2 linked regions of the Homo sapiens genome follow. The protein of the gene in region 2 interacts with the protein of the main gene of each other region in a pairwise test. Each region holds a gene or a part of one and is shown on either strand. Other genes may lie near its edges.

The links.
Region 1: the proteins of SDHAF4 (region 2) and UPK1B interact in binary tests that used the Homo sapiens proteins (3 or more experiments, as listed by UniProt).

Annotation. Positions count from the first base shown.
Region 1 is NC_000003.12:119,167,753-119,179,521, reverse strand, and holds the start of UPK1B (uroplakin-1b), read right to left. Parts: upstream 5,925-11,769; 5' UTR 5,884-5,924; intron 1-5,883. UniProt on the Homo sapiens protein: Component of the asymmetric unit membrane (AUM); a highly specialized biomembrane elaborated by terminally differentiated urothelial cells.
Region 2 is NC_000006.12:70,560,044-70,572,848, reverse strand, and holds the start of SDHAF4 (succinate dehydrogenase assembly factor 4, mitochondrial precursor), read right to left. Parts: upstream 5,920-12,805; 5' UTR 5,909-5,919; coding exon 5,845-5,908; intron 1-5,844. UniProt on the Homo sapiens protein: Plays an essential role in the assembly of succinate dehydrogenase (SDH), an enzyme complex (also referred to as respiratory complex II) that is a component of both the tricarboxylic acid (TCA) cycle and the mitochondrial electron transport chain, and which couples the oxidation of succinate to fumarate with the reduction of ubiquinone (coenzyme Q) to ubiquinol.

The sequences.
Region 1 (11,769 bases), on a different chromosome or scaffold from region 2:
AAAAAAAAAAAAAAGACTGCAACATCAACTCTTCCCCAAATTTTCAGGTTGCCCACCTGCTGTATAGATTTCGGACTTGTCAGCCCCCACAATCACATCACATAGGTTAATTCCTTAGAATTAATATATATATATATATATATATATATATATATATATATATATATATCTCCCTCTCTCTCTCTCCCTCTCTCTCTCTCAACAGGGTCTTTGTGTGTCACCCAGGGAGTGCAGTGGCACAATCATATCTCACTGCAGCCTTGACTTCCTAGGCTCAAGTGATCCTCCTGCTTCAGCCTCCCAAGTAGCTAGGACCACAGGTGCATGCACAATGTCTGGCTAATTTTTAAATTTTTTGTAGAGAAGGGGTTTCATCATGTTGCCCAGGCTGGTCTTGAACTCCTGTCCTCAAGACTTGGCCTTCCAAAGTGTGGAGATTATAGGCGTGAGCCACCATACGTTGCCTCTCTCTCTCTTTATGTATCTCCTTTTGGTTCTATCTCTGAAAGAACCTTGAGTAACACACCATCCCAATTGGGATTGATGTATATTTTTGATAGAAGCACATATGATCATTTTCTGATGTCTCCTGATACCATTTTACCAATTCCCACTGCCAGCCCCTAACTTCTGGATCAGATGAATTAAACATTTTCTGTTTCCATTCCATACAGTGCTTCCATGGTGAACTTTCTCAAGCAGAGGTTCTCAAATGATCCTCCAAAACACAGATGTTCCATTTACTGGGACAACATGTTTTGATGCCAATATTGAATGATTCCAGTCATTTCCTAATTTGAGGAAAAATTACTATAAAAATTTGTGATTTTAAACATTTTCCTCTTACACATTTTTCTTAAATTGTGGATGCTACTACCACCTGTCTATGCTAAAATCTAGTTTTTGGTATGAATTTAGGCCAAAATGATCTACTTACTTATTTTAAATTTAGTAGACCAAAATTTTCTGGTATTCTACAAAGATAAACATGGCTTCCAAGTGCCAGCCACTTAGCCAATCTTGAGATCCACTGTCCTAAAACACAGCTCTGAATTTATATCTCCCCCCTGCTTAGAACCCTTCAAAGGTTCCCTGTAGCCTAAATTCAAAGGAGAGCCCTCGGTCATTCCCTCTGCACTTACAAGCCCAGCCACCAGCTCCTACTTACTTCCTATTGCCAGGTTCATCACTTGTCCCCCCACTCTCTGTTGCTGACCAGTTTCTTTGAATCCAGATTTGCTCCTGTTCCCTTCTGAAAGACCAGTCTATAGTATTTGGCCAGACCCAACTATTATATTTTCCATTCAGCCAGTGGAGGAGTGGTTGGACCACCTAAGAGATAAAGTACAAACTCCTCAGTGTGTATTCAAGGCAGCACCCATCCAGGTTCTAAATGGCCTGCCTGCCATTTTTCACTGCGTGCCCCACCCCCCCAACCCTTTGGTGTCCTGGTCATGCCACCATGCTGTGCTTAGGGTGTCCCTGTCTTTGGAATCCCTTCTCCCATTTCTGCCTATCGAACTCTTTACCACCTTCCGAAGCCCAGCTGAAAAACCTCTTCTCTCCTCAACTTCTCTTACCCAGAATTATCCTTCCTTCCCTATATCCCTCTCTCTGCCTATAGCAAATAGCTCTCCAGGGAAGCTGAAACCATTGTGGATATGTGTTTATGGCTTTTCTTCCATACTAGCCTCTGCCACAGCAATATAGTCTGGTACGTTGTTACGTCTTTTCTTCACCCAAGTTTGTTTAATAAGATATTCTGAAGCCACAAAAATTGGATTGCTGTGCATCAAAAAAGCCAATTTAACAAATAATTGCATTAAAAAGCAAAATTATAAACTTTTAAATTAATTGACGGGTGTCACACTTAGAAGTCAATGACTACACTTTTGGTAGTTTTTGTTTGTCTTAGAAGATATGTAATTTGAGAGACATTAAAGTGTCATTCATCCTAGGACAGTTATTGGCCAGGTGCCTGTTCACGGCATGATACATCAGTTCTGGCTGCAAACTTGGAGGCTTTGTACAGGTGAGAAATTTAAGGCTCACAGAGAGAAAGTGACTTGTTCACGATCATGATGTGTTATTAAAAGAGTTAAGATTCAAGTCCAGGTTTCCTAACTCTTAACCCAGCCTTCTATGGGGTTTGTCACTAATGATTATTCTTTTTAAGGTAGGGAGATCCACTTCCCTTTACGTCTTTTTAAATTAAGAGAAACTCTTGACCTCCCACCTGTGAGCCTACCCATGAGACTCACTACAAGATAAGCCAGAAAGGGAGCCACATAAACAAAGCTGGCAGGGAGAAAGCCTTCTATCCTTTTCCTTCATTCAAAGGCTTCCTCACCGTTTACCCTAACTTCTGAATGCCACAATTTGAGACTCACTCCTTCATTCCTGATTAAAATGCAAGCTCATATAAAAGAGGCACATTGAGTTTCATGAGCCATCCATGTCAATGCCTCATTTATCAGCTCCCTTCTCTTATTTAATTTTCAAAGGGCGAGGGAAGACACCATGAGAAGGAAAGAGACCCAAGGAGAGGGTAGAACCTAAAAAGACAAACCTCGTAACTTATGATTTGGGGGTTTGGGTCTGTCTCTCTGGCTATACTGACTTCTAATGATATGATGTGTCCTCTTTCCTGCCTTCTCTTTTAGCCCACAGTATGTAGAAACTGTTTTAGATATGTGGTCTTCTGAACCCTCCCCACGTTATTCTAAAACAATGCCTCCCTGACTATATTGGATTACTTATCTGGCAGGGGTGGGAAGGAAACCAATGGGATGAGTTACATTTAACAAGTGGAAAGCGGTGGAAGGCAGAGGGCAGAGCAGCAACTGCCCGCGTTAGAGATGGAACGCCCCAGACTGAAAGTACGCAACTCACCTCGAAATATTTTCCATGTAAAGGAATAGCCCCTGTGCACCCCGCCCTGTGGGAAAACTGCCCTGTGGCCTGGTATGATGATGATTTACTCAAATTGCTCAATACCCTGGGAGTTCCTTTGCTTTAAAGAGTGCAGATTTTTTTAAAGCTAGAATTATATTTCTTGTTTTTTCTTTATTGTGCTTTCACTCAGTTTGTTTTCCTATAAAAATTAATCATACCCGTAGTGTTGATGTTTCCAGACACATTGAAAGGTCTAAAAACAATTGCTCACTAAACAAACCAATTTGCAAAGCAGAAGAAAAAGAAGTGAGACTCGCCCAGTAAGCATGAGATCATTTTTTCAAGTTCATTACCTCTTTTCCTCACCCAAGTTTGTTGTACCAGAGAACACACAAACCACACCTCAAACTTTAGTTCATGCTAGAGAAATTTGAATTAACAAAGGAGAAAAAAAGAAAAGGAAAAATAGGAGAGGAAGAAACAAAGAAACACAATATGCGATTGCCTTAGCCCTCACCCTGAAACTCAGCACAAGAACAGACACTTCCTTGGCTCAGAGTAAAGATGGGTGTGGAGATTGTAGGTCACAACAATTGCTGGTCTGCTTCAACTTAAGGTAGGATAAGTCCCTGGAAATAACAAAAAGAGGAGGTTTCTCCCAGGGCTGTCACCCATGGCTCACAGTGCCCATAAGTTTTTCTTGCTTTAAAGCTCTAAACCTGTGTTGACTAATACAGTAGTTAGTAGTTGCATGCAGTTATTTAAAGTCAAAAGAATTCAATTAAATAAAAGTAAAAATCAGTTCCTCAGTTGCTCCAACCACATCTCAAGCACTCCCTAGATACATGTGGTTAGTGTCTATTATCTAGAACATTTCCCTCATCACAGAAAGTTTTACTGGACAGCACTGCTCTTGATTCCTGGTGCTCCCAGTATGATGGGAGTCATCCACCCATTGGAAATCAGGGACTAGCTGTAAGCAATGGCTCAGGAGCACTCAGTTGCACGAGGGCCTCAGGTGTGGGCATTGCCAGAGAGATGCCCAGCTCCAGGGCAGGAGTACTATGGAGAGTCCTTGGGGCGGGGGGGAGGGGGTGGGCAGGCGGGTAGGGCGGTGTGTGATGATGGTGCCCCCTCACCAATGTGGTCTCTGTCCCAGTTGGTGAATGGTGGCCCATCAAGTTTGTGGGCAGCCTGCATGGCTATCAGGCACAAATTCCAGAGCATATTTAAAGGCTGGCTGGTGTTTACTCTGGTTAAGATTGTAAGCAGGAGAAGTCAAAAAGAAGTTCTGAGTTTTGGCCGGGTGCGGTGGCTCAAGCCTGTAATCTCAGCACTTTGGGAGGCTGAGGTGGATGGATCACGAGGTCAGGAGATTGAGACCATCTTGGCTAACACGGTGAAACCCCGTCTCTACTAAAAATACAAAAAATTGGCCGGGCGTGGTGGCAGACACCTGTAGTCCCAGCTACTCGGGAGGCTGAGGCAGGAGAATGGCATCTACCCGGGAGGCAGAGCTTGCAGTGAGCAGAGATCACGCCACTGCACTCCAGCCTGGGCCTCAGAGTGACTCCGTCTCAAAAAAAAAAAAAAAAAAAAAAAAAAAAAAAAAAAGAAAATAAAAGAAAAAAAAAGTTCTGAGTTTCTTTTTTTTCCCCTTGATTAAATGATGTCTAAGGTCCCCTTTGGATGTAAAAGTCTATGATTCTTCCCAGCAGTTAAAAAAAAAAAAAATAGGTGAGTTGATTTTAAAGACTATTTTATAGCAGAAAGCAAAACAATCTGTTGGAGCAGAAAGCAAAGTAAGAAATTTTTCTCCTCACTGAGAAGGTTAATAAAAAGAAAATCCACTTCTTCATAGGGTCTGAAAACTATGTAACCTAAATTTTGTTTATACTCAAAGTATGTATATCTATAAAACCTAATGAGTTCTTTCCTGTTGTGCTTAGCAACTCAGGCAAGAAATGTTCAAGAAACGTTGTCTTTCATTAAAAGAAGACATTCAAGTTAACAAAACTTCTTTAAAAATTTATTTTTATTTTTTTTAGAGACAGGATCTCACTATGTTGCCCAGCCTGGACTAGAACTCCTGATCACGTGGCCTCAGCTTCCCGAATAGCTGGAACTGCAGGCATGTGCCACTGTGACTGGCTACGAATTCTTAAATGGCTTAAAAATCTTTAAAACTAGTTAGAAGTGGAGTTTTAGGTTTATAAACAAATGCAAACATAAAATAATACTAGCATTATTTGAAACTTAAATTTGTATTTTGTGTGAAAATGTGATCAGAATGAAAAATATCTTTATGTCCTGCAGATCATGGTGGAGCAAAGAATTGGTAAGGAGTAAAAACAAATTATGTAAAAATAACATTGCGTAGATAAAGCTACTTTGTTGACTTACTTCAACTGACACATTTATTAAGCAGAAGTGTTTGCAGAGAATAACTGGGAGTAAATTGCTTCACACATTTCATTACAGGTTGGCAGGACCAAATGATTTCTGACAAGAAGACCAAGAAACTTTCTCTCTGCTAGCCTGAACAGATTATTAAGAAATAACACGAGCTATTTCGTTAAACTTTCTATTGCTTTTCTGACTCCACAAGGAAATTGGGGGTCTACAAAGGTGACTGTCTATGTGCGATTTAATCAGGAGATATAGGGTTTCTCGGGGTGCTTGGATTTTCTTGTTCTTTCTGTGGGGATATCTGAGGTTGAAAGCAGGATGGCTGCGTAATATCTCCAGAAGTTTAATGAGAACAAGACTTATATCAAGGGTATTAAGAAAGCAATTCCAACGGTTCAAAGTAAAAGAGAACAGGACAGTCACAATACCCTAAATTACAAAGAAAAAAATGACAGACTTTATGAATCAAGAATCTAACTTCTTCCCCTTTCCCTCCCAGTCTGCTAGCTTCCCTCCCAGGAGAGCAACCCAGCCCTTGAGCCCGGGAGATTCCCTGCAGAGGGAAAGCGGTCTACTCACAGCGCCTCCTCTTTCTGCGCACACGGTAGGGCCCGCTCCGCAGTCTGCACCCGACCCAGGTGCTTTTCTACCCTCCTGCAATTCTTTGAACCTCCAGGACCAGGGAAGGGTAGTCTGTGATTGGCAGGAGGCACCTCACATGGGCTGAGCTTTCCGCTGCCTGCCCTGCCTCGCTGAGGCGGGGGAGTAACCGGAGGCTGTCAGTTGATTTCTGCTGCTTTGGAATGTGTGACTCTGACAGATGGAAGCACCTTGACAGCCACACTCATCGCTTTCCTGGATCCCTCCTAGGTTTGGGCTTTACTGGAATACAAACTCAGGGATTTTATTTTGATTTGATTTGATTTGATTTGTGTAATTTGATCCTTACTCCTGCTTTTGTGTGTTGAAGGCTTGTTAGTCCTGACCGCTCACAGCGATGCTGATATGTGCTTACCTGTGTAGGGCCATGTCCAGTTTTAGTTTCTATAATTTGCATATGCCAAATTCAGAGAGACAGTAATTGCCCAAGTAATGCTCATACTGTAGGTGGCCCAAAGACTGATAAGGAGCAAGAGATGTGGAAAGAAACAGATTGGGAAAAATTCACGGAGAGAGAGGGCTCAAGTGATTATCTGATGTCCAATTCTTCCCTCCCCTCTTCTTCCCTCCCTTTCTCTTCTCTTCCCTTCCCTTCTTTTTTCCTTCTTCCCTGACTTCTGGAGCCATCATGTGTTATACATGGCACCCAGAACATTATTTTAATGGCTGCATAACCTATCATGGTATACATGCGCCATCGCTTGTTTAACCTGAGTTAGGAATCGGTAACTGCAGTAATGTTAGAATTTACTGAGTGCTTTTACCAATAGACTTGGGAGTTCCTCAAAGGTCAGCATCATCTCTGTTGCAGGTTAGGTTGTTCAGGAGCAGACTTTGAGACAAAATTTAGTGTGCAATATATTTATTAGACAGTGCCCTGAGATTAACACCCATGGCAGGGAGAGGGGAGAAACAGGACTGGGCAGAGGAAGAAGTTGAGCTGCAATATAGATGGGACAGTCTTAAGCAGCCCTCCTCAGGAAACTCTGGAGGAAGATGGCCTGTCAGAGTAGCTCTGACACTGGGCTCCTCTATGATCTGCCCTTCAATGTGGATTACCCTGGGAAGGCAGCTTTCTGTAGCTGAGGCAAGTCCTGAAAGGGGCTGATAACTGGAGGCTGGAGGTTGCAAGTACTCCCAGCAGCAGGGCAACCTCCCACTTCAAGGGGGACTGCATGGAGCACCTCTGTGTCCATCACAAGGCCTTATTCCTCTGCAGCTCTTCAGGGCCTTGTTAGATAAATTATCATATTTCACACAATAGAATTCTGTGCAATGGTTAAAAATGACACCACAGATAAACATTTAATGGTATGGAAATAAGTTCAGTCATTTATTTGACAAATATTTATTGAAAACTTAGGATGTGCCAGGCACTCTTCTAGAGGCTGAAAATGAAAAAGCGGTTTACAAAATAGTTTGTGTAATCTGACACATTTTAATTTTTAAGAAAGTTTACCTATGACTTAAAAAGTTAGAAATAGTATACAGCAAACATTAACCAGAATATATCTGAATGGTAAAATATGGGTGACTTTTACAGTCTTCTATTTTTGCAGTTCATATGTTTACAAAGGATCTATATTATAATTATAAGAACGTACAAGTTATTAAAAACATGTGCTGTCCTGGAAATATTTGTGATAAAGTAGCAAGGAAGCAAACAAGGACATGTGAATTTTCATTCATGTCTTAGGCATTTTATGTTCCATTACCATGATTATATGGGGAGAAAACAAAAAGATTTGAAAATCTTCAAAATAGATAATGTGAACACAAACCCAATAACAAGAGACAAGAGACTAGCTAGGAAAAGGAAGATTAGTTTTCAGATAATAACTGCAACTGAATAGTTGAGGAACGTCAAGTCGTTAATGTATGACAGGCTTATTTTTTTCCAGTTAATTTATTTCTAACTCTCTTCTGCTAATCTTCCTTTCTCTCTGGCTAGGTGGCTCCCTTACCCACATCTTAACCTGATTCCAAGCTCATCAGTGAATTCTCATTACTAATATCTCACTTCTGTTAGAAACACTTAGATATTTTCTTCCTATCACCACAATTCAAACTACAGACTCCAGTAGTTTTGGGGAGAAGTTGAGGTCTTTAATAACCCCCCAACTCCCTGTGTATGTTCATTTGAGAGGGAAATGATGTCGTCCTGTGTGAGTGGCCAGAGAGAGGCTCTATCCCTTTCTGTTGGCCATCCCCACTGTCTAGTTCACCACCACCAGCAGCAGTGTAGACAAGGGCAGTGCACAGGGCTGGCCGAGGAGAGCCCTACTGAACCCCACGAGTTCCTAAGCCTCAGAGGGTGCTCTGCCTCATTCATTGGTTTGCAGTCAGTCTTTGTCCTTCAATCTCACCTACCCTCCAGGACCCCAGTTCTCAGGTGGCTGGGTTCTACCTTCTGCACATCTCAGGAACCTAGAACTAAAGGTGGCATGCTTGTCCCCTTCTCTGTCGGGCCATACCACTGCACCATCACCCTCCAAAGCTTTTCCTTCTCTGTGGTAGTTCCAAGGCAAGTTAGCAGGCCTGGTGACTCATGTGATATTTAACTGGGCTAGAAGAATTGGTCCTACATACACACTCAAACTTTTCAGTCCTCATGAGGTTTTCCTCTGTCATCTTCGGGGCAAGGAACCACTGGAATGTTTGTCTTCTCTGCATTCCCTAACAGATCCCTCACTTCAAATTGACTTTCCTATGGCGAGGTAGGGAGTTATAGTGCAAACTGGGTGAGAAAGAGGCTGCCTCCCTACTGGAAGTTCGGAAAGTGGGTTATTTAATGCCTTTTGCTTTCTCTAGTTACCAATTTCAGCAAAAACACTTCTCAAAACATGATGTTGTCTACAATATTTTTAATATATAGTAAAAGTCCCAGGTACTGCCAAATTTACTCTTCACAATATCCCTTTTTTTTATTATTATACTTTAAGTTTTAGGGTGCATGTGTACAACATGCAGGTTTGTTACATATGTATACATGTGCCATGTTGGTGTACTGCACCCATTAACTCGTCATTTAGCATTAGGTATATCTTCTAATGCTATCCCTCCCCCGTCCCCCCACCCCACAACAGTCCCTGGTGTGTGATGTTCCCCTTCCTGTGTCCATGAGTTCTCATTGTTCAATTCCCATCTATGAGTGAGAACATGCAGTGTTTGGTTTTTTGTCCTTGAGATAGTTTGCTGAGAATGATGGTTTCCAGCTTCATCCATTTCCCTGCAAAGGATATGAACTCATCATTTTTTCTGGCTGCATAGTATTCCACGGTGTATATGTGCCACATTTTCTTAATCCAGTCTATCGTTGGACATTTAGGTTGGTTCCAAGTCTTTATTATTGTGAATAGTGCCGCAATAAACATACGTGTGCATGTGTCTTTATAGCAGCATGATTTATAATCCTTTGGGTATATACCCAGTAATGGGATGGCTGGGTCAAATGGTATTTCTAGTTGTAGATCCCTGAGGAATCGCCACACTGACTTCCACAATGGTTGAACTAGTTTACAGTCCCACCAACAGTGTAAAAGTGTTCTTATTTCTCCACATCCTCTCCAGCACCTGTTGTTTCCTGACTTTTTAATGATTGCCATTCTAACTGGTGTGAGATGGTATCTCCTTGTGGTTTTGATTTGCATTTCTCTGATGGCCAGTGATGATGAGCATTTTTTCATGTGTTTTTTGGCTGCATAAATGTCTTCTTTTGGGAAGTGTCTGTTCATATCCTTCACCCACTTTTTGATGGGGTTGTTTGTTTTTTCCTTGTAAATTTGTTTGAGTTCATTGTAGATTCTGGATATTAGCCCTTTGTCAGATGAGTAGGTTGCAAAAATTGTCTCCCATTCTGTAGGTTGCCTGTTCACTCTGATGGTGGTTTCTTTTGCTGTGCAGAAGCTCTTGAATTTAATTAGATCCCATTTGTCAATTTTGGCTTTTGTTGCCATTGCTTTTGGTGTTTTAGACATGAAGTCCTTGCCCATGCCTATGTCCTGAATGGTATTGCCTAGGTTTTCTTCTAGGGTTTTTATGGTTTTAGGTCTAACATTTATGTCTTTAATCCATCTTGAATTAATTTTTCTGTAAGGTGTAAGGAAGGGATCCAGTTTCAGCTTTCTACATATGGCTAGCCAGTTTTCCCAGCACCGTTTATTAAATAGGGAATCCTTTCCCCATTGCTTGTTTTTCTCAGGTTTGTCAAAGATCAGATAGTTGTAGATATGCGGCGTTATTTCTGAGGGCTCTGTTCTGTTCCATTGATCTATATCTCTGTTTTGGTACCAGTACCATGCTGTTTTGGTTACTGTAGCCTTGTAGTATAGTTTGAAGTCAGATAGCGTGATGCCTCCAGCTTTGTCCTTTTGGCTTAGGATTGACTTGGCAATGCGGGCTCTTTTTTGGTTCCATATGAACTTTAAAGTAGTTTTTTCCAATTCTGTGAAGAAAGTCATTGGTAGCTTGATGGGGATGGCATTGAATCTATAAATTACCTTGGGCAGTATGGCCATTTTCATGATATTGATTCTTCCTACCCATGATCATGGAATGTTCTTCCAGTTGTTTGTATCCTCTTTTATTTCATTGAGCAGTGGTTTGTAGTTCTCCTTGAAGAGGTCCTTCATATCCCTTGTAAGTTGGATTTGTAGGTATTTTATTCTCTTTGAAGCAATTGTGAATGGGAGTTCACTCATGATTTGTTTCTCTGTTTGTCTGTTATTGGTGTATAAGAATGCTTGTGATTTTTGTACATTGATTTTGTATCCTGAGACTTTGCTGAAGTTGCTTATCAGCTTGAGGAGATCTTGGGCTGAGATGATGGGGTTTTCTAGATATACAGTCATGTCGTCTGCAAACAGGGACAATTTGACTTCCTCTTTTCCTAACTGAATACCCTTTATTTCCTTCTCCTGCCTGATTGCCCTGGCCAGAACTTCCAACACTATGTTGAATAGGAGTGGTGAGAGAGGGCATCCCTGTCTTGTGCCCGTTTTCAAAGGGAATGCTTCCAGTTTTTGCCCATTCAGTATGATATTGGCTGTGGGTTTTTCATAGATAGCTCTTATTATTTTGAGATATATCCCATCAATACCTAACTTATTGAGAGTTTTTAGCATGAAGTGTTGTTGAATTTTGTCAAAGGCCTTTTCTGCATCTATTGAGATAATCATGTGGTTTTGGTCTTTGGTTCTATTTATATGCTGGATTACATTTATTGATATGCGTATATTGAACCAGCCTTGCATCCCAGGGATGAAGCCCACTTGATCATGGTGGATAAGCTTTTTGATGTGCTGCTGGATTCAGTTTGCCAGTATTTTATTAAGGATTTTTGCATCGATGTTCATCAAGGATATTGGTCTAAAATTCTCTTTTTTGGTTGTGTCTCTGCCAGGCTTTGGTATCAGGATGATGCTGGCCTCATAAAATGAGTTAGGGAGGATTCCCTCTTTTTCTGTTGACTGGAATAGTTTCAGAAGGAATGGTACCAGCTCCTCTTTGCACCTCTGGTAGAATTCGGCGGTGAATCCATCTGGTCCTGGACTTTTTTTGATTGGTAAGCTATTGATTATTGCCTCAATTTCAGAGCCTGTTATTGGTCTTTTCAGAGATTCAACTTCTTCCTCGTTTAGTCTTGGGATGATGTATGTGTCGAGGAATTTATCCATTTATTGTAGATTTTCTAGTTTATTTGTGTAGAGGTGTTTATAGTATTCTCTGATGGTAGTTTGTATTTCTGTGGGATTGGTGGTGACATCCCCTTTATAATTTTTTATTGCGTCTATTTGATTCTTCTCT
Region 2 (12,805 bases):
AAAACACACATACCTGTGCATGCATGTGCACACACACACAGACCCACGAGTCTGAACAGAGGAATGTAATTTTATCAGTAATTATAAGGGTAAAGAGACTATTAGTCTGCAAAACAACAAAAACCCCCATACAAACAAACCGGAAACAAGCCATATGCTGTTTATGTGAGATGCACCATTTGCATGTTTAAAAAAAAAACCACGGAAAATGGAAAAATAAGATAATAAGAAAAAAATGAATAAAAACATAATTTACAATGTAAAAATAACTTTCAATATAGTCTTCATTTTTTAATTGATAAATATTATATACATTTATGGTGTACAGCATGTTTTCAAATATGTATATATTGTGAAATAGCTAAATCAAGCTAATATATGCCTTAACTCACATATCTATTATTTGTGATGAGAAAATTTAAAATCTACTTTCAGCAATTTTCAAGTATACAATACACTGATATTAACTATAGTCACCATGTTGTACAATAAATATCCTTTGCATAACTTATAACAAAGAAGATCAACAATAAACAAAGGTTGGTGCTCTGAAAAGACTGAAAGTGTTCCAGCCTGGCCAACATGGTGAAACCTCGTCTCTACTAAAAACACAAAAATTAGCCAGACATGGTGGTGCACGCCTGTAATTCCAGCTATGAGGCTGAGGCAGGAGAATCACTAGAACCCGGGAGGTGGAGGTTGCAGTGAGCCAAGATCGCACCACTGCGCTCCAGCCTGGGCGACAGAGCAAGACTTTGTCTCAAAAAAAAAAAAAAAAAAAAAAAAAAAAGACAAAAAAAGACTGAAAGTGTTGTAAAAGCTTTGGTAAGGCTACTATAAAAAAACAAGAGAAAGCAAAATAGATAATATGAGAAAAAGAGAGTACATATTATATGGAGAGCAGAAAATTTTAAAAAAATACCAGAAACTTTATGCCTATATATTGAAACAATACAAAATGGAAACCTTTCCAGAAAAAGTTAACTTACCAAAACTGACTTAAGAGGAAACCTGATAAATATAATAATAACCATTATAGAAGTTAAACAAGTAATTTAAAGTCTTCCCTCGAAGAGAAGAACAGGTCTAGACAGTTTTGCAGGTGAGTTGTAACAAACCCTCAAGGAACAAATAATTCCAATCTTAAACAAAATCTAACAAAGAAGGGAAAAGAGTGAGTAGAATCCCCAGTACATTATATGAGGCTAGAATAACCTTAATATTAAAACCAGGGAAGGCTGGGCGCGGTGGCTCACACCTGTAATGCCAGCACTTTGGGAGGCCAAGGCAGGCATATCACGAGGTCAGAAGTTTGAGATCAGCCTGGCCAATATGGTGAAACCCTGTCTCTACTAAAAATACAAAAATTAGCTGGGAGTGGTGGCGTGTGCCTGTAATCCCAGCTACTCCGGAGGCTGAGGCAGAAGAATAACTTGAACCCGGGAGGCAGGGGTTTCAGTGTATAATAGAAGAAAATTACAGGCCAATTTCTAAACAAAATATAAGCACAACAAATACAACATTATATTTAAAAATATAATCACTATGATCCTTTGGAATATTTTCTAGGAATGCAAGTGATTCACTATCAGAAAAATCTGTAATTTACCACCTCAACAGATTAAAGCAGAAAATGATAAACACCTCAGTAAGACGAAGAACACCTCAGTAAGACAAAGAAAAATCAATTAAGTAAACTTCAAGATTTATTCATCATTAAAAAACAAATACAAATACATAAACAAAAACAAAACAAAATCCCAAAACTCTACATAGAAACAGACTTCCTTAACCCAAAAAGGGTATAACTGTAGCTAATACCATATTTTTTTTTTCATGTTCCATGAAATTTTATTTCACAAAGGCTTGGACTCTGAAGACCCACAGTTATGGATCATTAAATCCTGTAAGTAAATGTAAATCCAAAATAAAGAGTTTTAACAAAAACATAAGACGGAGATTTTTTGGTTTAAAAGAACAGAATTATTTGGGAGATAGCTAGAACTCTTCCCTGAGGATTCGTTTATAAAACATGCCTTAGAAGTTATTAGGAGATGGTGACTTAAAAAAAAATGTAGCAATTTTATCTAAATGACTGCAATATCACACCTTAATGATAAAAAGAAATGCATTCCCTTTATAATCATAAACAAGATAAGTATGCTTGCTGTCAACACTTCTAGTCAACATGGTGCTGGAAATCTGAGCAAAGAAAGAAAAAAGATATAAGGATTAGACAGGGAGGGTGGTGGGGGGCACGGTGGCTCTCGCCTGTAATCCCAGGACTTTGAGAGGCCGAGGCTCTCAAGGATCACTTGGCTAACATGGCAAAACCCCATCTCTAAAAAAAATATAAAAATTAGCCGGGCATGGTGGTGCACACCAGTAATCCCAGCTACTCGGGAGGCTGAGGCAGGAGAATCACTTGATTTCGGGAGGTGGAGGTTGCAGTGAGCAGAGATTGCGCCACTGCACTCCAGCCTGGGTGACAGAGCAAGACCCTTTCTCAAAAAAAAGGATTAGACAGGGAGAAACTAGACTGTCACCATTTGCAGATGATATGAATGGCTATGCAGCAAAGTCCCCAAAATCTGCAAAGTAAATTATTTAAATTAATAAGGTAATTTAGATACAAAATCATTAAGCATCATGTTTCTGTACATAAACAACAGTCAGAAAATAGTAAGATTTATAACAAAGTTATGGCTATAATTATCAAGACAGGTAGTATCAGCACAGGAATAGACAAATAGGTCAATGGGACTGAGAAAAGAGCCAAGAAATAAACGTATGCCTATATGTATAAGTAAACTTGATTTATGATGGCTCGCATTATATCAGTAGGGGAAAGGTCCTATAAATACATGAACCTGGGACAAGTGTTTGATATGAAAAAAAATGAAAACTGGTTTCCTGCCTCACACCATATACAAACCATCAATTCCTGGTAGAATAAAGGCTTAAATGTGAAAAGCAAAACTATAAACCTTTGAGAAGAAAATATAAGAGATTATGTCCATGACTTTAGGGTACAGAAGGGTTTCTTAGACAAGACCACAAGGCAGTCACAATAAACAAAAGGATCAAGACAAAATTTTATAGATAAAATTATAAACATCTGTTTATTAAGATACCTTTTATATTGAAGCTGCATGATTACACATGCAGACCCGTTATTCTATTCTGCCTAGCAGTGACAGAAACAAACCACAAATTGAGGTATTTGACACTTACGTAACTAAAAAAGGTTTAGCATACAAATATATGTAAAGAATATAAATAAGAAGCAATCTGTTAAGAAAAAAGGCCGGGCGTGGCAGCTCACGCCTGTAATCCCAACACTTCGGTAGGCCGAGGCTGATAGATCACCTGAGTTCATGGCAAAACCCTGTCTCTACCAAAAATACAAAAAATTATCTGGGTGTGGTGGTGGGCGCCTGTAATACCAGCTACTTGGGAGGCTGAGGCAGGAGAATCGTTTGAACTCAGGAGGCAGATGTTGCAGTGAGCTGAGATCTCGCCATTGCACTCCAGCCTGGGCAACAAGAGTGAAACTCCGTCTCAAAAACAAAGAAAGAAAAAAGAGGCCGGGTGCGGTGGCTCACGCCTGTAATCCCAGCACTTTGGGAGGCCGAGACGGGCGGATCACGAGGTCAGGAGATCGAGACCATCCTGGCTAACACGGTGAAACCCCGTCTCTACTAAAAATACAAAAATTAGCCGGGCGTGGTGGCGCGCGCCTGTAGTCCCAGCTACACGGGAGGCTGAGGCAGGAGAATGGCGTGAACCCAGGAGGCGGAGCTTGCAGTGAGTCGAGATCGCGCCACTGCACTCCAGCCCGGGCGACAGAGCGAAACTCCGCCTCAAAAAAAAAAAAAAAAAAAAAGAAAAAAGAAAGAGGTATTTCACAAAAAGTGAATATTTGAAAAGATGTTTTACTTCTTTAATCAGAGAAAAGCAAAATCACAATGAGGTGTCATTTCATTTCCCTGTAGGCAGCCAAAAATTAAAACCTAAGGCAAAATTAAGTTTCGGCAAGTTTGTGGAACAACAGAACTCCAATACACTGCTGGTAGAAGTGAAAATTGCTATAGAATTAGAAAATGCCGTTACACCTTGGCATTATATTGTAACAATGAAAAGACCTATAACATACTCCAGGAATTCTACTCCTTCCACTAATGCACAAATAAGGTACACAAGAATGTGTAGCACCCAATCCTAGTGTTTCTGGAATTACCCAAATGTCCTTTGAGAAGGGCACTGGAAAATGCATCATATGTTCACACAGTTGAATGAATAACTACAACCTCATGCGTCAATGTGACTCAATCACAAAACACAGCGTTATCTGAAAAAAAATCAACAATATGAAAACATTTCTATAAAGATTAAAAACACCATTGCACAGTTGTATCAGGAAGCAGCAAATAGAGACCTCCTTGGCAATAGAGACTATTTCTTAAATTGGAGTATAAGTTCATAGATGCTGGTTGTGCTTCATAGCTTACATGACTGCTACATAGCTTACATGTGTGCTACGTGTGTGTGTGTGTATACATATATATATATGGAATAATTCATAATTGTTTAAAACTAGTTAAAGGGGGATGTTGAATGAACCCTACAAAATTTTAACGTTATTACCTTGAGGTTTGGATAATGTAGGACTTTCACTTTCTGTATTATTCATTTCTGGACTATTTAAAACTTATACAATTAAGTAAAATGTTTGTATTTGGGTAAAATGATTGCACAAAGGAAAACAAATTGCATAGAAATCTGGCACCATTTGAGGGCAATAATTACTGTTTTCAACTTACATAACTTCTCCAGGTGTCATATATTAAAATTATGTTTTGCGGACCGGGCGCGGTGGCTCACGCCTGTAATCCCAGCACTTTGGGAGGCCGAGGCGAGCGGATCACAAGGTCAGGAGATCGAGACCATCCTGGCTAACACGGTGAAACCCCGTCTCTACTAAAAATACAAAAAATTAGTCAGGCACGGTGGCGGGCGCCTGTAGTCCCAGCTACTCAGGAGGCTGAGGCAGGAGAATGGCGTGAACCTGGGAGGCAGAGCTTGCAGTGAGCCGAGATTGCGCCACTGCACTCCAGCCTGAGGGACAGAGCGAGACTCCATCTCAAAATAAATAAACAAATAAATAAATAAATAAATAAAATTATGTTTTGCATAGTCTGGGCTGCTAACTGTATTATCTTGAGAAAAATTTCCAACAACAATGGGTTTAAAAATGTTGGTTTTACTGAAAGCATGAATGCTTTTTCTGTACTGACAATTCCTGGCTTCATCTAATTTACGTTATACTTATTTGCCTTTGGCTCACTTCTGCACTTTTCCCATTTTTAAAAGATAAACTGTAAACTGCCACAAATCCTTTTCTGCTGGAGCCTGGACCAGGAGCGCGGATTCCTGTAAATAATGATGTAAATAAATAAGTAAATCAATGACTCCCATTCCCAAAGGGCCTTCTTTTCCATTTTTCTCTGGGGCATCGAAGTGCGGTGTGCCCTGCGAGCTCCCACAGGAACAACCCGGAACGTTTGTGGTCCTGTTGGGCCACCGCGTGCTCGGTAGGAAGCGGACGTCCCGGGGGCTGAAAGGGCCTTAGCGATTTTCTCGCTCTAGTCCCACCCGAGACCCGGGGCGCTGCAGGAACCTGCCCAGGCCACCGGGTGGGCGGCTGGGCGGGAGAAGCTGGGCAGCCCCTGGCAACACCGAACGGCCAGGACACACGCGGCTTCCTCCGCGGGAGGCGCTTCTCTCTGCGCCTGGGCCTTCACGACCCCTCCCGCGACCGTGGCCCCGAGGCCAGGTGCTTACTTGCCGCTCTCCACGCCGTGGCCGAGACCCAGCTAAGCAACCAGGGAAGCCTCGATGGGGTCATGGCGCCGACTCCCCGAGCCTCCGCGCAGGCGCAAAGCAGTAGTGGGAGGAGCAGGGGGCATGATCCGGAGCCTCCCTGCAGAGGGCGGGGCCTCCGTGGCCGGCTTTAGAAAAGGAGTTAGAGGCATCCCTGGGCTCTTTGGCCAAGAGAGACCCAGGCTACCTTGAGCCCGGTGTTAAAACGCCAAATCGTGGCTGCAGTTAGAAGAGGGAATAATTCCGTTCCGTTCATGCTTGTCAGTCTGAGCCGAAATGGCCCGTGGAAGATCCCTTTTATAGTTTACAAAGATTGAGCACCTTTTACTCTCTCACTCATGTAAAATGCTTCTTTTACCTAATTCTCCCTGTTTTGTGTTTTAAATCTTTGTTCAGTCAGCTCCTAGTTCGTCCATTCTGACCGACTAACCAGATGATATGAAAGGCGACATTTTTGAATGAGGTGCAAAGCAAGAAAAGGCTCTCCATCCAGGCCAGGATCCAGTGCAATGAGCTCTGCCCCTTAACCCTTACATCCCACCAGCTCTGATAGCGTTGAGTGGATGTGGCAGACCTGGATGCTTTGTGCAACTCGTGGAAATATTTACAGAATCATAGTGAAGGCCCCCAGAATTCTGGAATTTTGTCTTTTCTTTTAAAGAAAAGTTTCTGGCTAGCTATTGCGCCTTGGTAGTGTCTGACCATGTGACATCAAGTGGTTATACGATCGAAGCTTCTTATCATGAACTGAGAATTATCTGGTTCTCCTAGATAAGGAGATCCTTTTACGAAGAGAAAGTGGGCCGGGCAAGGTGGCTCACTCCTGTAATCCGAACACTTTGGGAGGCCGAGGCGGGTAGATTACCTGAGGTCAGGAGTTCGAGACCAGCCTGGCCAACACTCTACTAAAAATACAAAAATTAGCCGGGCGAGGTGGCACATTCCTGTAATCCCAGCTACTTGGGAGGCTGAGGTAGAAGAATCGCTTGAACTCGGGAGGCGGAGATTGCAGTGAGCAGAGATCACGCCACTGCACGCCAGCCTTGGAGACAGAGCAAAACTCCATCTCAAAAACAGAAAAAGAAAAAAGAGAGAAAGTGGGATACACAGAACTGGGCCAAAGTCAAAACGGAAACAGTTTTCATTTGTAGGGAGCTCACAGTCCTAATATCATGCTTTTGACCTTTAGCTTATATCTACAGTTTAATAATGAATTCCTTGTGACTAGCTGACTGAGGAAAAAATTCAAAGTCGGATGATGGCTTTGCTCAATAAACTGGCCCAGCTGGCAACTGACTGCTTTTCATATTTAGAGCCCCACTTAACAGAGGCCCTGAAGGAACAGAACAGGGAAAAAAAATTATTTCCAGCATGCATAATTTAGCTTATTTATGTATTTTATGTTTTTACAGGCACATGTCACCACACCTGGCTGATTTTTCTATTTTTAGTAGAGACAGGGTTTCGCCATGTTGACCAGGCTGGTTTCAAACTCCTGGCCTCAAGGGATCCACCCCTCTCAGCTTCCCAAAGTGCTGGGATTACAGGTGTGAGCCACTGTGCCTGGCCAGAATTTAGCTTATCTTGTATGCTTTGCCTAAAAAGAGACATGGCTTGAGATAAAAATCGACATTTCATAGGCAGTGACTGGTTTGTCAAGTGGCTGGGAACTGGGAATGTAAAAGTTTTGGACTGGGTCTTTGGAATAGGACCTCTCAAAGTGGTCCCAAAGCATGAAAACATTTGGGTCCTATTGAACGTTAAAAAAAAAAAAAAAAAAAAGAGCTTCCATTGCAGAAGGGCTCTTAATCAGAACAAGATTATTAGTTATCTATTGCTGCCTCACAAATTATCCCAAAATTTATTGGCTTAAAGCAATAAACAGTTATTCTCTCACAGTTTTTGTGGATCAGTAACCTAGAAGCCAGAGTGACTGTGGTTCTGGGTCCTAAATGAGGTTGCAGCCAAGCTGTTGGCTGAAGTCCCAGTCTCGTATAAATGCACAACTAAGGGAAGATCTGCTTCCAAGCTCATTCACATGATTATTGGCAAGATTTGGTTCCTTGTGGACTTTGGACTGGAAACCTTCTCAGTTATTTGTTAAGTGGGCTTCTCCAAAGGCTATCTTGCAACATGGCAGCTGGCTTTCCACAGGACAAATGAACTAAGGAGCAAGAAAGACCACTCAAAATGGAAGCCCTGAACTTCTGTAATCTCATTTCGGTAGCGACATCCCACCACTTCCACTGTATCCTATTATTAGGTCCCGGCCACTCTCAAAAGGGGATTACACAAGGGCTGCAACAGTGACCCATTCTGTGGACATCAATTACTCAGCCTCCTTCCCCCACAACAGGTGTGGACTCAGTAACAAGGTAGCCACGGTGGCAAGAATGGAGACATACATGTACTTTTAACACCGTCTTTCTTCTGCCATGACTGATTGGCTACTACCACTACTCGCCAACTGCAGTGACCAACTTGATCCCATGATACACTTTTATGTGGTCTGGGTGGCAGGTCTGATTACAATGAAATCCTACTGTTATGAAGGAGGTTGCAATTTGTTCTTACAGGAAGAGACAATTATTCTGCATTTAGATTGTTTTCCCTGATTTATGCTTATTATATACTTCACCTGTGGACTTACTGAATACCTTAACACACTACTCCATATTTAATACAATATCATATACAACATTGCTTCTTACCGAAGAACTCATTTTCTTGTGAAAGATGTAAAGCAGGGGACTAATGCCTGCAGGATTCACAGTCTTATATATTCCATCATCCAAAAGCAACCGATTTTATGGAATGACGGACAGCCTTATTGAAGGTTGTTTTGGAACGAGGTGAGAAAATACACTTTGGGATACTGCCCTAAAGGATTTGTCATATTTTCCAAATGAGTCAACGGTATTTGGTGATATATCTTCTGTTGACAGAATAACAGAGATCAAAGAGTAGAAAAGGGTCTGACTTCTTACTATTGCATATGACTTACTGATATAAAATATATTTTGCTTTCCATTGTAGTAGAGAAGAGACAAGCTCCGAAGGCCCCTGAACATGCCTGTATATTATTACTGAGTGTGCCAGACTGCAAGCCGTATCCATCTCCTGATGCTAAGCAGTTTCTGTAGTTAGTCATATAGGCACCTAAGTAGGTCAAGGCAATCACAGCATTACTACCATTTAACTGCTGCTCCCTGGGGGAGAGAGACTAGCTTGTTTGTTGTTTGCTCAAAAACTGCTTGATTCTTGATCCTGGATTCTTCTGTAATGCAACCCCCCATGTGCACAGACGTCATCCGGCCCTCTGCATCACACTGTGGGAATTGGGCTACGGGAACTGATGCAAATATGCGGACACTCTGGCTTCTATTTTGCTGTAATAAAGCTGTTTTGTCTTTTGTCCAGGAGTATCCTGTCATCATCCATGAAACTGCAGCAACCTAGCCTGTAACCTTGCAAGTAGGATAAAATCTCAGACCCTTCACTACTCTTGCTAGCCATCTCTGAGTCCAGGTTCTGTTGGTATAGCAATTTTTGTGCCCAGCTGGAATTGCCACCCAGCCATTTTGACCTCATTCCTCTAGGTAAGGTTAGAGAAAGTGGTGATGGTGCTAGCTGGAGTGATTGGCCCTGATGACCATGGAGAAAAGAGAGTAGGGAGAACAGTATAACCAGAAGTCAGGGGGGTCTCCTGGAATCCCTCCTCACAATACCATGTTTTTATATTTTATTTTAAAAAATACCATGCTGAATGGTAACATTTACATATAAGACTATTACAACCATATATAGGCAAGACCACCCACACCTCAGATCCTCTGTCATCCACTGGATACATAAATCTGATCAGCAGAGGTGCTGCTTGAACATAAAGAAAACAGAAAATAGTTGGCAGTGGTGAGAAGTCATAACCATCTAGATTCACGACCACTGACAGGACTAAGTACTGTATTTGCGACGTGTTATTAGAGAAATTTGGGACATAAAACATGCTGCTGCTTTTACACTATCCTGAAAATTCTGATTCAGGTGGTCCGTAATAAGGTCCTAGAATGTGTATTTTTAAAGTAGTCTAGGTAATTCTTGGCACGGACATTGCAAAGCCCTGCTCTATTTTGTTTTCTTCCTCACTGGCTCATGCATGTTTATAAAATTTTCTCTTATTTCATATGTATATATATATTTGAGTTGGGGGGTCTCCCTGTCGCCCAGGCTGAAGTGCAGTAACTCACTGCAACCTTGAACTCCTGGACTCAAGTGATCCTCCCACCTCAGTCTTCCAAGTAGCTGGGACTACAGGTGCATGCCACCAGGCTCACTTAAATTATTTTCTAGAGATGGGGTCTTGCTATGTTGCCCAGGCTGGTCTTGAATTCCTAGCTCAAGTGATCCTCTCACCTCAGCCTCCCAAAGTGCTGGGATTACAGTCATAAGCCACCACGCCCAGCTTCTTTCCTATTATACTGTTATTATGTATAGGGGTGGTGGTTAGGTCACAATTTTGTCTATGAGTTGCACACTATTGAGATGAGATTATTACAGAATCAGAGAACATCACACTGAGGTCCTGGACTTAAAACTGGATGAGGGATAGTAGTACTATGTCAGAAAGATGCATTTTAAATGTGTAAATATGGAGAGAATTATGCTTGCAGATGTTGGGAAGACAAAAAGATGGACTATATTACACCTGATGTGTTTTTATATTTGGTGCTGTCATCAAACCCATTTCATATGTTTGGTTAACCTTGGTAGAATAAAGGGTCCCATTTTCTACTGTGGAAACTAACGAGGTCAGATACATCTGCTGTCTTTGATGCCTGACAGCCCAAGCACTGGCACAAGACTTAAACTTGGTCAGTTGGACATTCTACTACGCTTTGAATCTGAAGTGATAAAACAAGTACTTGAAATCCAGTTTCCAGGGTCATCCTGGCTAGAGAAGAATACAGTCATTTAGCTCTGAGGTCATCAGAACTTGGCTATGCTTTTGGTCATCTACTTTCCTTTGGCTTCTATTTGTTTTCCAAACCTGGCTCTCTAGCCTTTCCATCAATTCTGTGAGCTACCTGATCCTCCTCCAATAAATTCTTTTTCTGTTTAGGTTGATCATAATTTTTTTTGTTGTTTGCAACCAAGAACTCTTACTGGTATACTTCAATGAGATTCATTCTCTAAAGTAAGAGTCAATAATACCATTTCAGATCATTGTTTCCTCTCTCCCCCATAACTGTACCCCATCTCCCACAATCTGAATTTGGAGGTGAATAGTGTGTGGTGGTTTCCCAGATAAATCAAGTAAGTTAAATTTGTTAGATTTTAAACCATGAACACAGATGTGCTTTTAGAACTGTATTAAAATAACCAAAAACTAATCAATCAACTATGATAAGAGCAATTTCCACTCAAATACTATTTATATGATTGAGTCCTTTGATAAACCTGAAAATTATCCAAACTTTGAATATGCACATTTCAAACTCAGAGCCAAGATATAGGAATATAAAAAATGTGCTTGGCAAAAATATGTGGTGGCTAATTAATATATTTACATTTTCTAGTTATAATGCACTTGGGATATTAGTTTATAAAAATTTTGAGTACTTTCTAAAAAGTAAATAATTATCAATAGCAATCAAAATTATTTTAACTATAATAATATATACAAAAGATATAAAAATACAAAGGCTACAAGTTATATAATTAGGCTGGTCTATGTTATAAATAAAATATATATACCTCTAGTATTCAGAGAATAAGCAAAGGATTACAAGGGTTGTAGCTGTTCCTCCAGATAGCCATTTGTTCATTTATTAACACCAGAGGCAATAACAACGCTAAAAATAAACATGCATCAATTGTACAATAAATACTTACAAAAACCTCTGTCTGTCACAATTAGTGAGTGCAAACAGAACTTCTACCCAACCTTAGTGCATTTTTATTTTCACAAGTAAAACAGAAAAGGAAAATAGTGAATTTAATGCTATTCAGCACCTTTAGTAAAGTCAAAAGACTCAACATCTCCATATATCAAAAACATTTGCATCTGTATCACCAAACATGTAAAGTTAATTATTTTGTTCCATCTTTAACATGAATTATTTTATTTACATTACTTTTTAGTTCAATAAATTTTAACAATATTTAAAAATTATCTAAATTCATAAAAGTATTTCATAAATTTCAACATTTAATTATTATGTACATATAAGGAAGTCCATGAAAAAAGTTAAAAGAAAATGTAGTCATAAAGTTCAAGCAACATTACCAATTTAGCAAAAATTCCAACCAAATCAAGGCAGAGGGCATTCAAACATTCAAAAATCTTTATCTGCTGCCAACATGTACAGGAACATTTCCAGTAATAAAAGTCAGTATGAGAAATAATGTTGAAATCACCAGTAGAAAATATATTTTAATAGGCATGAAATATGTTTAAGCAACAGTAATGACTTTATAGAAAACTTGTATTACACTGTTTTATATGAACTACCTGGTTTGATTGTATGATAAAGTTGTATTTTAGAACTACAGAAGTTGATTTCAAAAAATATATTGTAGCAGCCATAATTTTATTTCCAGTTAAAACACAGTAAAATGTGAAAAGAAAAATTTATAATTAACTAAATAATACCCCCAGTATTAGAAAATTTTAAATCCCATGCTATTCTAGCAATAATGGTCTCTAATATAATGTAGTCTGATGTAAGAATTGTGGAAAGCCAATAATAAACAATCAGACACAGGTATGGGCTTAAAGTTTCACTGAAATACTTAGGTAGCAAAATATATGAAAAAGTAATAGAAAAGTAAAAAGATAAAATTAAAAAAATATTGCACAGCCACATTACCTAGAAAGTAAAGTTGATGTTTAAAAAGCACTAAACATGGATGATATAAATTA